Regions from separate parts of the Homo sapiens genome. Here region 1 is linked to region 2. The links come from fine-mapping of genetic effects on gene expression. Tissue or cell type: prostate. Region 2 holds a variant in brackets; the other region holds the start of a gene. All regions are shown on one strand. Distances are from middle to middle.

The links. PIP is the estimated chance that this variant, and not a neighbour inherited with it, causes the effect.
Region 1: it holds the start of DMAC2, and the variant in region 2 is fine-mapped to the expression of DMAC2 in prostate (GTEx, PIP above 0.99).

The regions. Positions count from the first base shown.
Region 1 is chr19:41,436,263-41,442,706 of GRCh38, forward strand. DMAC2 (distal membrane arm assembly component 2) reads right to left here and starts at 3,650. Exons shown (of 6, transcript NM_018035.3): 1 at 3,620-3,650; 2 at 1,956-2,152; 3 at 130-210. The coding sequence starts at 3,637. RefSeq lists an enhancer at 3,385-3,554.
Region 2 is chr19:41,839,605-41,847,115 of GRCh38, forward strand. LYPD4 (LY6/PLAUR domain containing 4) reads right to left here and starts at 5,079. Exons shown (of 5, transcript NM_173506.7): 1 at 3,974-5,079. It overlaps DMRTC2 (DMRT like family C2), which reads left to right and starts at 5,438. Exons shown (of 9, transcript NM_001040283.3): 1 at 5,438-5,497. The variant C/G (reference allele first, on the strand shown) is at 3,988.

The DNA of each region.
Region 1 (6,444 bases), 400 kb before region 2:
TCCCAAGCCACACAGCCAGGAGGCGGCAGAGACCAGGGGACTCTGAAGCCTGTGTGACTGCAGAACCTGGATGTTAGAGAGATACCCCACCACCTGCCCCAGCCCGTTCTAACACCTTAGCGGTCATACTTGACTGCGCCTCCCTGCTTCAGGATGAAAAAGGCACCTGCGCCGTATGGACCATGTTGCTTCTCCAGCCAGGTGTAAGATCTGCAGAGAAAATGGTAGCTAAGGGTGAGGCCTGGGGAGCACCACAGCCCTCACGATGCCCCAGTGCTGTTAAGAGGGGCAGAGTCCAGAGAACCAGGCACACAGACAGATTCAGTCAGGCTGAAAATATTTATTGCCCACCTCCTAAGTGCTGGGCACTGGGGGCAAAGTGGTGACCAAGGCAGATAACATCCCTGCCCAGTCTGGAGATTACTGCAGTAATCCAAGCTATTATACAGGGAGAAACAGATAACAACCCAGGAAATAACAGCAAACTGCAGAGAATGTCAATTCCATGACCAAACAAAGCAGAGAGGCTGACTGTGAGGGCTAGGGAGCAGAGGAGTGGGGATGGTGGAGGCTAACTGAGTTTGGGTGTTAATTGGAGGAGGTGACATTTGAGCAGGGATTTGAGTGGTGAGAAGGAACAGAGTATAAAGGCTCAGAGACTTGAATTAGGATGGTTGAATAAATAAGAAATAGGGATGTCATGCTGAAGGGGCCAGTGGAGTCCTGATAGGGGGTCTCAAAGCTCAGTAGGAGCTATGTTTTAGGCCTTGGAGATTGGCTCTTATTTGAAGGTTTTGAGCTGGTGATGATAAGATTCCTTCAGCTGCTTTGTAGATTATAAAAAACTATGGGACAGGCCAGGTGTGGTGGCTCACGCCTGTAATCCCAGCACTTTGGAAGGCCGAGGCAGGTGGATCATCTGAGGTCAGGATTTCGAGACCAGCCTGGCCAACATGGTGAAACCCCATCTCTACTAAAAATAGAAAAATTAGGTGTGGTGGCGCCTGCCTGTAATCTCACCTACTTGGGAGGCTGAGGCGGGAGAATCGCTTGAACCCAGGAGGTGGAGATTGCAATGAGCCATGATCACACCACTGTACTCCAGCATGTGCGACAGAGTGAGACTCTGTCTCAAACAAAACAAAACAAATTTTGGCGGGGTGTGGTGGCTCATGCCTGTAATCCCAGCACTCTGGGAGACCGAGGCAGGCGGATCACCTGAGGTCAGGAGTTCGAGAGCAGCCTCGCTAACATGGTGAAAACCCATCTCTACTAAAAATACAAAAATTAGCTGGGCCTGGTGGCGGGCGCCTGTAATCCCAGCTACTTGGGAGGCGGAGGCAGGAGAATTGCTTGAACCTGGGAGGTGGAGGTTGCAGTGAGCTTAGATTGCGCCACTACACTCCAGGCTGGGAGACAGAGCAAGACTCCATCTCAGAAAAAAAAAAAAAAGAGTATGGGAACAAAAACCCAGTTAGCTTATTGAGTGATTCAACTATAAGGGATCAGGCTACGAATGGTGAAGGCAGTGAGAACTGGTCAAATCTGAGATATTCTAGTATTTTATTGATGGTCTGGATGTGGAGGGCAGGGAAGCAAAGAGAGGAATTAGGGATGACTCCTTAGAATTTGGCCTGAACAACTGGGTGGGCAGCACCAGTGTTTACTGGGATGGGAAGGCTTGGGAGTGAGCAGATGTTTTTAGGGGAGAAATCAGGGTTTGGCTTTAGCCATGTTAGGTTTGAGATGCCAGTTAGACTCTGAGTGGAGCTGGTGGGTGGCAAACTGCCTATGTGAGCTGGAGTCCTTGAGAAGGGTACAGCCTGGAGATGGAGCTGCAAGAGACATCAAGGCTGGCACTGGAAGCCACAGTGCTGCCTGGGAATGGCAAGGACAGGACCTGGGCTCTGGTGGGCCAGGGTCTCCACAGGGTCTTGCAGACCAGGGATTCTCACCGATTTTTCTCATGCACCTTGTACATCTCCCTTTGGAGCAAGTAATCCCTCAGAGCCTCCACATCGTAGAAATAGTTGGTCAGGAACTGGAGTATTGTCCTTTTCTTCTTCTGATTGCCCTCTGGGGCCACTGCCGCACCCAGGCGATGGATGCCCCTGATACGCCCATTCCACATGGGGGCGACCAGGCGCAGGGACTGGGGAGGGGGAGAGGAAAGGAGCTGAGCCTGGAGCCTCCTGGGAGACACAGAGCTGGATCCCCCAGTTCTTGCTCCATGAACCTCAATCCCTCTGCTTCCCAACTCACCCTAAGTTCTTCCTTCAAAACTTCAAAACTGTCTTTGAGATTCCAAAAATTTCCCCATGTTTTTTCCAAGTTCCTCCTCCCCTTAGTGAACCCTAAATTTTCTCGACTAGCCATATATTGTTGATTTTCCTAAATTCTTCCTCTAACTTTCCCCCAAACCCTTATCACTCAAAACCTGCATTATTTGACCTCTTAATTTTCCACAGATTTGCCCCTTAATTACCCAATTCTTCTGCTGGGGTCTTCCCAAATGACTTCTTTCTTTCCCCAGAATATAATCTTAAAAACTTATCTCCAAACCTCAAGGAGAGGGTGCTCTGAGCAATCCCTAAAACCAACCAAGCTTGTCCAACCCGCCGCCTGCATGCAGCCCAACACAAACATGCAAACTTTCTTAAAACATTAGGAGGATATTTTTGTGATTTTTTTTTTTTTTTTTTTGGCTCATCAGTTATGGTTAGTGTATTTTATGTGTGGCCCAAGACAATTCTTCTTCTTCGAACAGCGTGGCCCAGGGAAGCCAAAAGATTGGACACCCCTGAACCGAGAAGGGTATAAAAAGCATGAGCTTTGAAGAGGAGAGTAAGAAAGTCGAGGGGTGTGGCCAATGGGAAGAAGCCCCCAAACTCTTCAATTTTGCTTTCAAGGTCTCCTCTTAATCTACCCCAATTTCTCTTTGCTTTAACCAAATTCTTTTTTTTTTTCAAATTATCTCGATAATTTTACCCAAACCCTTATTTTCCTCAAAAGTTTAAAGCTGCCAACCTCTTTAATTTTCCCTAAATTCATTCCTTGATTTTAAATCCTCTGAAAGAATATCTCAAATTCTCCTCTTAATTTCACCCAGATCATGCCCTTAGAACCTCCAAATTGACCTCTTGGTTCCCCCACCCATCATGCTTTTGAGTTTTCTGTAAAAATTCGTCAATCTCCCACTAACTTTCCTTACATTCATCCTTCGGTCTTCTAAGACCAAATCCCACATCCTCGAACAATCCCTTCCAAGCTCTCTTATCCTACAGGCCCCACCCTTGCCTGTCCATTAGCTCCTTGTGTCATCCCTCCCTCTGATTGGTTAGTCGCGTCGCTCTTCGGCAGCCACTCCCTCATCCCCATTGGATACTCTCAGCCAAGTCCCTGCCTCCTCTCGCTCGCTAAAGCGTCTCCTCCGCCTGCGACCCTCACAGATCCTTCCTGGCCCCCACTAGCCACAGGTTTGCACTCCCAGTACGGGGCTTGCCAGGCTTAGCCTGCTGCCTCACGGCTTTCTGCTCTCGTGGCCGCCAACAGAGGCCCTGAATGCGGAGGCTGTAGAGCGGACTTCAAATTTGGGGCTCTAGGAACTCCGGTCACTTACCGCCCAGGGAGCCGCCATCTTGCTAAGGTTTCGTAACCGGAAGGGGCCGGTCTTATCCCACGCTCCTGGTTCAGCGCGAACTTATTCTCCTGTGGCCACGCCCCGCGTTTTCTAACCGTCCTCTTAAAGGTGCACGCACTTTTTACTCTTAAAGGGTTTAGGGATTGCTCACAGCGCCCTCTCCCTGAGCTTCAAAACGAGACACAGGTCGGGCTCACGCACCTGTGAACCCAGCACTTTGTGGAGGCCGAGGCGAAAGCATCGCTTGAAGCCAGGAGTTCGAGACCAGCCTGGGCAACATAGGGGAGCCTTTATCTCCACAAAGAAATAGGGCAACCTTATATCCACAAAAAATAAAATGTTAGCCGGGCGTGGTGGTGCACGCCTGTGGTCCCAGCTACTCACGAGGCTGAGGCGGGGGGATCACTTGAGCCGGGGAGGTCGAAGTTGCAGTGAGCTGTGATTGCGCCACTGCACTCCAGCCTGGGTGACAGAGCGAGACGCTGTCTCTTAAAACAAAAAATTGAAAAACAAAACAAACCCCAGGACTCCACAATCTTTCCCTAGGAGAAGATGGGGTGTTCTTCCCGGCAGAGTACCTTTCTTTCCTGACTGCAATTGCAGTCTCCCCAAGCTTTCTTATTCTTCCAGCTTCCACTCACTACCTCCTAAAAACAGGGAATGAGGGGGCTGAAAAGCTGACCACGTCATTTTTAAAAATTAGGGTCAGGTAAGAGAGTGGGTGAAGAGGTTAGATGTCAAGGTTAGAGACTGAGGTGAGATCTCAAGACCAGTTTGGAGTTGAAAGCTAGATCGCAGCATGAAGAGCCATTGTGAAGTCTTGTGGATAGAATTATTCATTCATTAGTTCCAAGAATATTTACTGAGCACCTACCACGTGATGGCAGGCACTGTTCTAGATGCCGAGGTTACCATGGTGAGCAGGACAGACCCAGTCCCTCTCTCAGGAAGTCAACATTCTGGGCTGGGAGAGGATGGATGTGGGAGAGGATGAATAAGAAACAAAGGAATCAGCAAGGCAATTTTGATGAGAAGCAGATAAAAAAAAGTGACTGGGTGTAGGGCCATCAGCAAAGGCCTCTCTGAAGAGGTGACATTGAAGTAGAAGTGAATGATAAGGAAAGAGCCATTCAAAGATCTAGGGGAAAAGCGCTGCAGGGAGAGGTAGCCTCTAGAGCAGAGAGGCCTTGAGGTGGGAACCAGCTTGCAGACAGAGATAGGAGACTGGGTTGAGAGGTGGGCAGGGGCTGACGGTGCAGGCCTGGTAGGGTTTTATTCTATTCACAGTGGGAAGAAGGGAGTGTCAAAATCGGATTTACATTTTGTAAAGATTATTTCTGCCAGGTGGAGAATGTACCTTAGAGCAGCGGTCCCTAACCGTTTTGTTACCAGGGACTGGTTTCGTGGAGGACAATTTTTCCATAGACTGGGGGTCGGGGGTGGGGTGGGGATGGTTTTGGGATGAAACTGTTCCACCTGAGATCATCAGGCATTAGATTCTCATAAGGAGCAGGCAACCTAGATCCCCCGCACGCACAGTTCACAATAGGGTTTGCCTCCTATGAGAATCTAATGCCACTGCTGATGTGACAGGAGGCGGAGCTCAGGCGGTAATGCTCACTTACCCGCTGCTCATCTCTTGCTGTGCGGCCCAGTTCCTAGCAGGCGAGGGGCTGGTACTGGTCCTTGGCCCAGGGACTGGGGACCCTTGCCTTAGAGGGCAAGGGTGGATGCAGGGGACCAGTAAAAGAGGCTGCTGTAGCAGTCTAGGCAAGAGATGAATGGGGATGGGGCAGAGGGAATGGTGAGAAGTGCTCAAATCCTGGGCCTGTTTTGAAGGTTAAGCCAACAGATTGAGAAACTAAAAGCAGACGGGCGTGGCTGTGCACGTGAGGAAACTGGAAGGGCAGCAGGTTTAGGAAGGTGGGTGTGGCAGCTGAATAACGAACCCTCTCCCCATACCTGTGAATCCCTGGGCACTGTGACTATGTTACTTTCTATGGTAAAAGGGACTTGGGGCTGGGCGCGTTGGCTCACGCCTGTAATCCCAGCACTTTGGGAGGCCGAGGTGGGCAGATCACCTGAGGTCAGGGGTTTGAGACCAGCCTGGCTAACATGGTGAAACCCCGTCTCCACTAAACATACAAAAATTCGCCAGGTGTGGTGGCGTGCACCTGTAACCCCAGCTGTTCAGGAGGCTGAGGCAGGGGAATCGCTTGAACCCGGGAGGCGGAGGTTGCAGTGAGCCAAGATTGCACCACTGCAGTCCAGCCTGGATGACAGAGCGAGACTCTGTCTCAAAAAACAAAATACATATATATATATATTGTTCATTTGTTTATTTTAAGATGGAGTCTTGCTCTGTCGCCAGGCTGGAATGCAGTGGCGTGATCTTGGCTTACTGCAACCTCCACCTCCTGGGTTCACACCATTCTCCTGCCTCAGCCTCCCGAGTAGCTGGGACTACAGGCACGCGGCAGCATGCCCGGCTAATTTTTTGTGTTTTACTAGAGACGGGGTTTCACCATGTGGCCAGGATGGTCTTGATCTCCTGACCTCGTGATCTACCATTATATATATGTATATATATGCACCTTGGGTCTGAAGGAAGGGTCCAAGGCCGAGAGAGGCCTGCAGTGCTTCCCAGACTTTTCCACAGCAGAAGCCCTCACCCTCAACAGGGATAATATACCCATAGGCAAGTCCAGGGTCAGCAGAATTGGCTGCTTGGCCCTAGGCCAGCAGCCTGGACACAGGCACTCCAGCTAAGGGATTGCTGTCTTGGTGCCCCTGGGAGCCATTCC
Region 2 (7,511 bases):
ACTGATATGCAGGCTGTTCTCCAGCCAGAGGCAATGAGATCAGAGAAACAAATAGATGTTTCAAACTCGTGTGTGTTGTGTGTGTGTGTGTGTGTGTGTGTAAGTTAACATATCACTAAATAACCCTTGGTTCAACATGGAAATTTAAAAGTATTTAGAACTGAGGTCAGGAGCAGTGGCTCACGCCTGTAATCCCATCACTTTGGGAGGCTAAGGCAGGTGGATCACCAGAGGTCAGGAGTCCAAGACCAGCCTGCCAAAATGGTAAAACCCCATCTCTACTAAAAAATATAAATTAGCCAGGGGTGGTGGCACGAGCCTATAGTCCCAGCTACTCAGGAGGCTGAAGCATGAGAATCGCTTGAACCCAGGAGGCGGAGGTTGCAGTGAACCGAGATCGCGCCACTGCACTCCAGGCTGGGCAACAGAGACAGAGACTCCATTTCAAAAAAAAAAAAAGTATTTAGAACTGAATAATAATAAACATATTACATAACACACACATTCACACACAGACATAGACACAGACAGACACACACATACACACACACACACACACATAAGTGCATGTAAAATCTGCTGTAAACTGAATAAGGTCTGAAGTCTAGGTAAGAGTACTGTACACCAGCCCAGGCATCACGACAAAATGCCATCTCTACAAAAAATACAAAAATTGGCCAGGCATGGTGGCATGCACCTGTGGTCCCAGCTACTTGGGAGGCTGAGGTGGGAGGACCACTTGAGCCCCGGGGATGGAGGTTGCAGTGAGCTATGACTGTACAAACAGTATTGTACAAATGTCAATTTCCTGCTCATATACTATGGTTATATAAGATGCCCCTACAGGGAAACTGGAGGAAGGATCCAAGGGACTCTATGTACCACTTTTGCAACTTCCTGTGAGCCAACAATCATTTCAAAATTAAAGGGTTTTTAAAATATATACAGCCGGGCACAGTATCTCCCGCCTGTAATCCCAGCACTTTGGGAGGCCGAGGCAGGCAGATCACGAGGTCAGGAGATCAAGACCATCCTGGCTAACACGGTGAAACCCCATCTCTAAAAACACAAAAAAATTAGCCAGGCATGGTCGTGGACGCCTGTAGTCCCAACTACTTGGGAGGCTGAGGCAGGAGAATGGTGTGAACCCGGGAGGCGGAGCTTGCAGTGAGCCAAGATTGCGACGCTGCACTCCAGCCTGGACGACAGAGCGAAACTCCGTCTCAAAAAAAAAAAAAATAAAATAAAATATATACATCAAAATTTGAGACACAGCTAAAGCAGTATTTAGAAGTAAATTTATACTTTTAAATACATGTATCAGGAAATGTGAAGCATTAAAAAATAAATATATTCATGAACTAGTTCAAGAAATTGTATAAGGAGCAACAAAGCAATTCTCTCCTACCCAAAAAAGAATGGAAATAAGGATGATAGCAGAAATCAATGAAATAGTAAACAACAACAAACATTATTACAAAAAAGATCCATTCTATGAAAAGATTTAGTTAGTTCGCTGGCAAATCTGATCAAGGGAGAAGATGCAGGCCGGCACAGTGGCTCATGCCTCTAATCCCAGTGCTTTGGGAGGCTGAGCCAGGAGGATCCCTTGAGGTCAGGAGTTCAAGACCAGCCTGGGCAACACAGTGGCTTATGCCGGTAATTCCAGTGCTTTGGGAGGCTGAGCCAGGACTGCTCGAGGTCAGCAATTTGAGACCAGCCTGGGCAACACCTTGTCTATACCAAAAAAAAAAAAAAGTTTAAAAATTAGCCAAGCATGGGAGTGCCTGTAGTCCCAGCTACTCAGGAGGCTAATGTTGAAGGATTGCTTTAGCCTCAAATCACAAGGTCAGGAGTTCGCGACCAGCCTGGCCAACAAGGTGAAACACTGTCTCTACTACAAATACAAAAATTAGCCCGGTGTGGTGGTACGTGCCTGCAGTCCCAGCTACTAGGGAGGCTGAGGAGGGAGGATCACTTGAACCCGGAAGCCAGAGGTTGCAGTGAGCCGAGATCATGCCACTGCACTCCAGCCTGGGCAATAGAACAAGACCCTGTCTCAAAAAAAAAAAAAAAAAAAAAGTGAAGAAATGCACAAACCCAGCAATAACCAAGGAAATGCAATCTGTCAAATTGTACATCTATCAGACTGGTAAGGATCAGAAAGCTGGGAAAAGACAAGTGTTGGCAGGTATGTGGGGATAAAGGAACCCTTGGCCCCTGATGCTCATGGCATTATTTGGAGGGCTGGGGAATAAAACACTATTTCTGGACTCTGAGAAACAAAGGAGTTGAGAGTTCTGACCAGGATCTCAGGCCCAAAGCAGCATTGCAGGGGTCTGACACTACATGGTCAAATTGGGTTTATAAATACCCATTTCCAGTATACCCTACATAGGTATTACAAAAATGTCCACCTTCATCTACAAAGGAACATGCACAATAATGCAGCATTTTTTTTTTCTGAGACTGGGTCTCGCTCTGTTGCCCAGGCTGGAGGACAGCTGTGCTCACTGCAGCCCCCACCTGCCAGGCTCATGCAATCCTCTCACCTCGGCCACCCAAATAGCTGGGACTACAGGTGTGCGCCAACACACCCAGCTTTGTAGAGATGGAGTTTTTCCATGTTGCCCCAGCTGTTATCAAACTCCTGGGCTCAAGCAATCCACCCACCTCGGCCTCCCAAAGTGCTGGGATTACAGGCATGAGCTCCCATGCCCAGAGAATGCAGCATTATTGTGGTGATGGTAGGTTGAGACAATGGGAGCTTCCCTCTCTGAGACCAAGTGAATGCAAAACATGCTGGGGATGTACGCTATGGAATATCACGCAGGAGTTGGAAGAAGTTGATTAGATGTACACAGGATGTGAGGCAGGGTACAGTGGCTCACGCCTGTAATCCCAGCACTTCGGGAGGCTGAGGTGGGCGGATCACCTGAGGTCAGGAGTTCAAGACCAAGCTGGTCAACATGGCAAAATCCTGACTCTACTAAAAATACAAAAATTAGTCGAGTGTGGTGGTGGGAGCCTGTAATCCCAGCTACTCAAGAGGCTGTGGCAGCAGAAGAATTGCTTGAACCCAGGAGGTGGAGGGTGCAGTAAGCCAAGATCACACCATTGCACTCCAGCCTGGGCAATAAGAGTGAAACTCCGTCTAAACAAAAAAAAAAAAAAAAAAAAAAAAAAAAAAAAGTACACATCATGACAGAATGACAGAATGTGTACATGGATAGATTGTAAAATCACAGTGCTGATTATTACAAATAGTATATAACATAATATCACTTGCATAAATTAAAAACTCAAACAGAGGTCGGGTGTGGTCGTTCATGCCTGTGATCCCAGCACTTTGGGAGGCCAAGGCAGACAGATCACTTCAGGCCAGGAGTTCTGGACCAGCCTGGTTAATATGGCAAAACCCCATCGCTAAAAAAAAAAAAAAAAAAAAAAAAAAAAAAAAAAAAAAAAAAAAACCCCAACAACAACACTACACACATCCTGGGAGAACACACACACAAACCAAAAGATACATATTAACCACCTTAGAATGAGAATTGCCTATAAGAAGGTTAGGGAATGAAAGTGGGGAATTGGTGGAAAATAACAGTGTAGGAGGGGGTACAAAGATCACTGACCTTGGCCTCAGAGACCCAGGTTGGAATCTTTACCCCTTCATTTACTAGCTGTCCAATTTGTTGAACTCAGAGCCTACTACCTTCTTTATAAAATGAAGTATAATACATCTCATAGGGTCATTGTGAAGATCAATAAAATTATTACCATAAGTATTAGGCAAATGCTAAGCTCTTTATAATCGTTGGTTACCCTGTTCCTCTACCACTATCCCTCCCTCCCACACACACTTCCTCTCACTCTCTCTCCACTACCTAAAGGATCAAGTTCAACCTCTTTAGCTGGCCTTTAAGCCTCCCCCGACCACACCCCACCCCACCCCAGATAAGCGCCACCCAACCTTTCCAATTTTAT[C/G]TAGGACAGCTCCCCTGCCCAGCAGTCCAGCTAGAGGTCACGTCGGCCACCCTTTTCTGCCTGCAATGCCTCAGACACACATGCTCTGTAACCCAGAAATCTGTGGCCAAGAAAGGTGCCAAGACCCGCAGAAAAGCTGGGACACAGGAAAGAGAAACGAAGGCTGACAACAGATCTCACGGGGGTGAGGGAGATTAGGCCAATCAGAGAAGACAGCACACGCCAGCCTCAGATGCAGAACAACTGGACCTGGACCTAACAAGCTGAGTACAAGTGGAGACGCAACCAGAAAAGATTGAAGTGAAATCCTCAAGCAAAAAAAAAAAAAAAAAAAAAAAAAAAAAGGATGGAGCAGTAGTCAGAGGGGATGCCACCCCTACAAAAGACAAACAAATTGATGGAATGGAACCTTGCAGGGAGAGAGAGGACCAGCAGAGAGAGGGAGGCGTAGGAAAATGAGGAGTGGGGCACAAAGGTGGGGCTCTCAGGGAGAAGAGGAGTCGATTTTAGAGGGGGAGAAGAAAAGGACACAGAGCTGGCTGTACAGAGAAAAGGGGCCAAGGCAGAGAAGATGGCGGGATGGTGTGAGACGGAGTTCACAGAAATACCCAGAGAAGGCGACGATTACACAGAGGAGCCCCCAGAGGGGCGAACTCTTGAGGAAGATGAACGCGGAGGGTGGAGCCAGCCAGAAATTCAGAAAAACTAGAGGCGTCCCCGGTAGCGAAGGAAGCCGGGAAGGGGCCAGGCTATCAGGGCATGAAGCACGGGAGAAAATGGGTCCGAAGAGGGAGAGCGTCCGAGAGAAAAGGAAAATCAGAGATTAGGAAAATCACAACCGACACAAAGACAAGAAGAGACACAAGGAAAGGGGTGCAATCTGAGGAAGGAGGGCCCGGTAAGCAACCCGGTAATCACAGCGCTGGGAGAGAACGCATAAAAGAAGGGTAGCTCAGGAGTTGTGGGGCACCGGAAGAGACATAACAGAAAACGCAGGCCTCCACTCAGCAAAAACAAGCCACGCGCGAAGTCGAGGTACAAGGCAAGGGAAGGCCAGAAACGAGGCAACCCGTGCACAGACCGGGCTTGGTCAACGCCCCAGGGGCGGGGCCAGGCGGGCCGTTCCTGGGGGGCGGGGCCAGCCTCGGTCCAATAAGGGGTACTCGACGCCCCATTGGCCACCTGCCTCGAAAGGGGGAAGACAGTCTGGGCGGGCAGGACGTGCGGAGGGAGAGGCAGCGGTGGCGCGAGGCTCAACTCGAAGCGCTATTGGTGGGACTGATAGTCTTGTGCGCCAAGAAGCTGGCAGAAGGGAAGGGGCGGGACATCAGTTCAGGATCTCAAACCGCATTGGTCGTCTGCCTCGGCTGAGAGAGGCGATGCTTGAAGTTCATTGGTCTTTGTGAGACAGGGTAAGAAAAGCAGCGCGAGCTTGGCGGTTCCTCTGGCCACTTTCTCACAGTGTCTTTGGGCGTCTTCTTGACTGAATCTGACTCCATTGGAGGCTGTGGTAACCGTGAACTAGCTGCACGAACACGGTCCCTCCTGCCTTTCCGTCCTCCTCCCTCTTAGCCGGACTCCCTAACCCAGGCATCCCCTCTCCTCCCCCTCGCGCCCCTCCCGCCCTCGCGCCCCCTCTCCCCTTCCCTGCCTCGCGGGCCCCTTGGCGCGTTCCCGGTTCCCCACTCGCTCCCTGGGGCACGGGAAGGGGGGAGGGGGACATGCATGAAATTAATTGTTGGTAGTGGCCACAGGAGCAGGAAGCGCTGGACACAGTGACTTCACATGTTTACACAAAAACCTGAATAAGGTGTGAGCGCAAGAGAGACATTAGTGCCCCAAGGAGAAGGTTTTTGGCCCAGATCAGGGCCTAGCACATGACAGGGGCTCAGTAACCATTTGTGGAATGAATGAAGGAGTGAAGGAAAATAACTTGAAAGTGGGGCAGGTGGCGGGTGCGGTGGCTCATGCCTGTAATCCCAACACTTTGGGAGGCCGAAGCAGGCAGGTCGCTTGAGGCAGGTCAGGAGTTCAAGACCAGCCTGGCCAACATGGTGAAACCCCATCTCTACTAAAAATACAAAAATTAGACGGGCGTGGTGGCACAGGCCTGTAATCCCAGGTACTCGGGAGGCTGAGGCAGGAGAATTGCTTGAACCCAGGAGGCGGAGGTTGCAGTGAGCCGGGATTGCACTACTGCACTACAGCCTGGGCTACAGAGTGAGACTCCATCTCAAAACAAAAAAAAAGAAAGAAAGAAAGTGGGACAGGGGAGCCAAGCATAGTGGCTCCAGCCTGTAGTCCCAGCTACTGGGGAGGCTGCGGCAGGAGGATTGCTTGAGCTCAGGAGGTGGAGGCTGCAGTGAGCCATGATCACGCCACTGCGCTCCAGCCTGGGCAACAGAGCGAGACCCTGTCAATAAAAAAAAAAAGAAAGTGGAGCAGGGAATCCATGAGAATAAGGTAATTATTGGGGGTGCAAGAGAGGGTTCTGATTTAAAGGGGTACAAGAACAAAATAAGACTAAAGGAATGCAAGGAGGCAGTTGCTTTGCAGGGCATAGATGAGACTAAGAATTGAAATTGAACTAAGAATTGAAAGGGGCATAAAACTACTGGTAGGCATTGGATGAATGCATGAGAGTGGGGTGAGCATTGTTGAAGAGGATGCCAGGAAACACTGTTGGGACGGAACAGGGTGCTTGTGAAAAGGGGATGTAGGACTCGCTGAAGGGGTATGTGAGGACATGAGTAGGTTGGAACCTAGGATGTGTGTGTGGGTGGGAAAGTGTTTGGATTGAAAGAAAAGAATGTTTGAATTGAAAGAATACAGAATGTCGGGCGCAGCAGCTCATGCCTCTGATCCTAGCACTGTGGGAGGCCAAGGCAGGAGGATCGCTTGAGCCCAGGAGTTCGAGACCAGACCAGCCTGGGAAACATAATGAGACCTTGTCTCTATAAAAATAAAAAACAATTAAAAAAAAATTTTTTTTTTGAGACAGAGTCTTGCTCCGTCACCCAGGCTAAAGTGCAGTGGCGCGATCATGGCTCACTGCCAGCTCTGCCTCCCGGGTTCACGCCATTCTCCTGCCTCAGCCTCTGGAGTAGCTGGGACTACAGGCACCCGCCACCACGCCCAGCTAATTTTTTGTATTTTTAGTAGAGACAGGGTTTCACTGTGTTAGCCAGGATGGTCTCGATCTCCTGACCTTGTGATCCACCCGCCTTGGCCTCCCAAAGTGCTGGGATTATAGGCTTGAGCCACCGCACCCGGCCTAAAAATTTTTAAATTAAAAAAAGGGGGGACGGGTGCAGTGGCTCATGGCTGTAATTCCAGCACTTTGGGAGGCCGAGACAGGCAGATCACTTGAGGCCAGGAGTTCGAGACCAGCCTGGCCAACATGGTGAAACACCATCTCTACTAAACATACAAAAATAAAAAAAAATAGCCGGGCATGGTGGCTCTTGCCTGTAATCCCAGCTACTCAGGAGGCTGAGGCAGGAGAATCGCTTGAACCCGGGAGG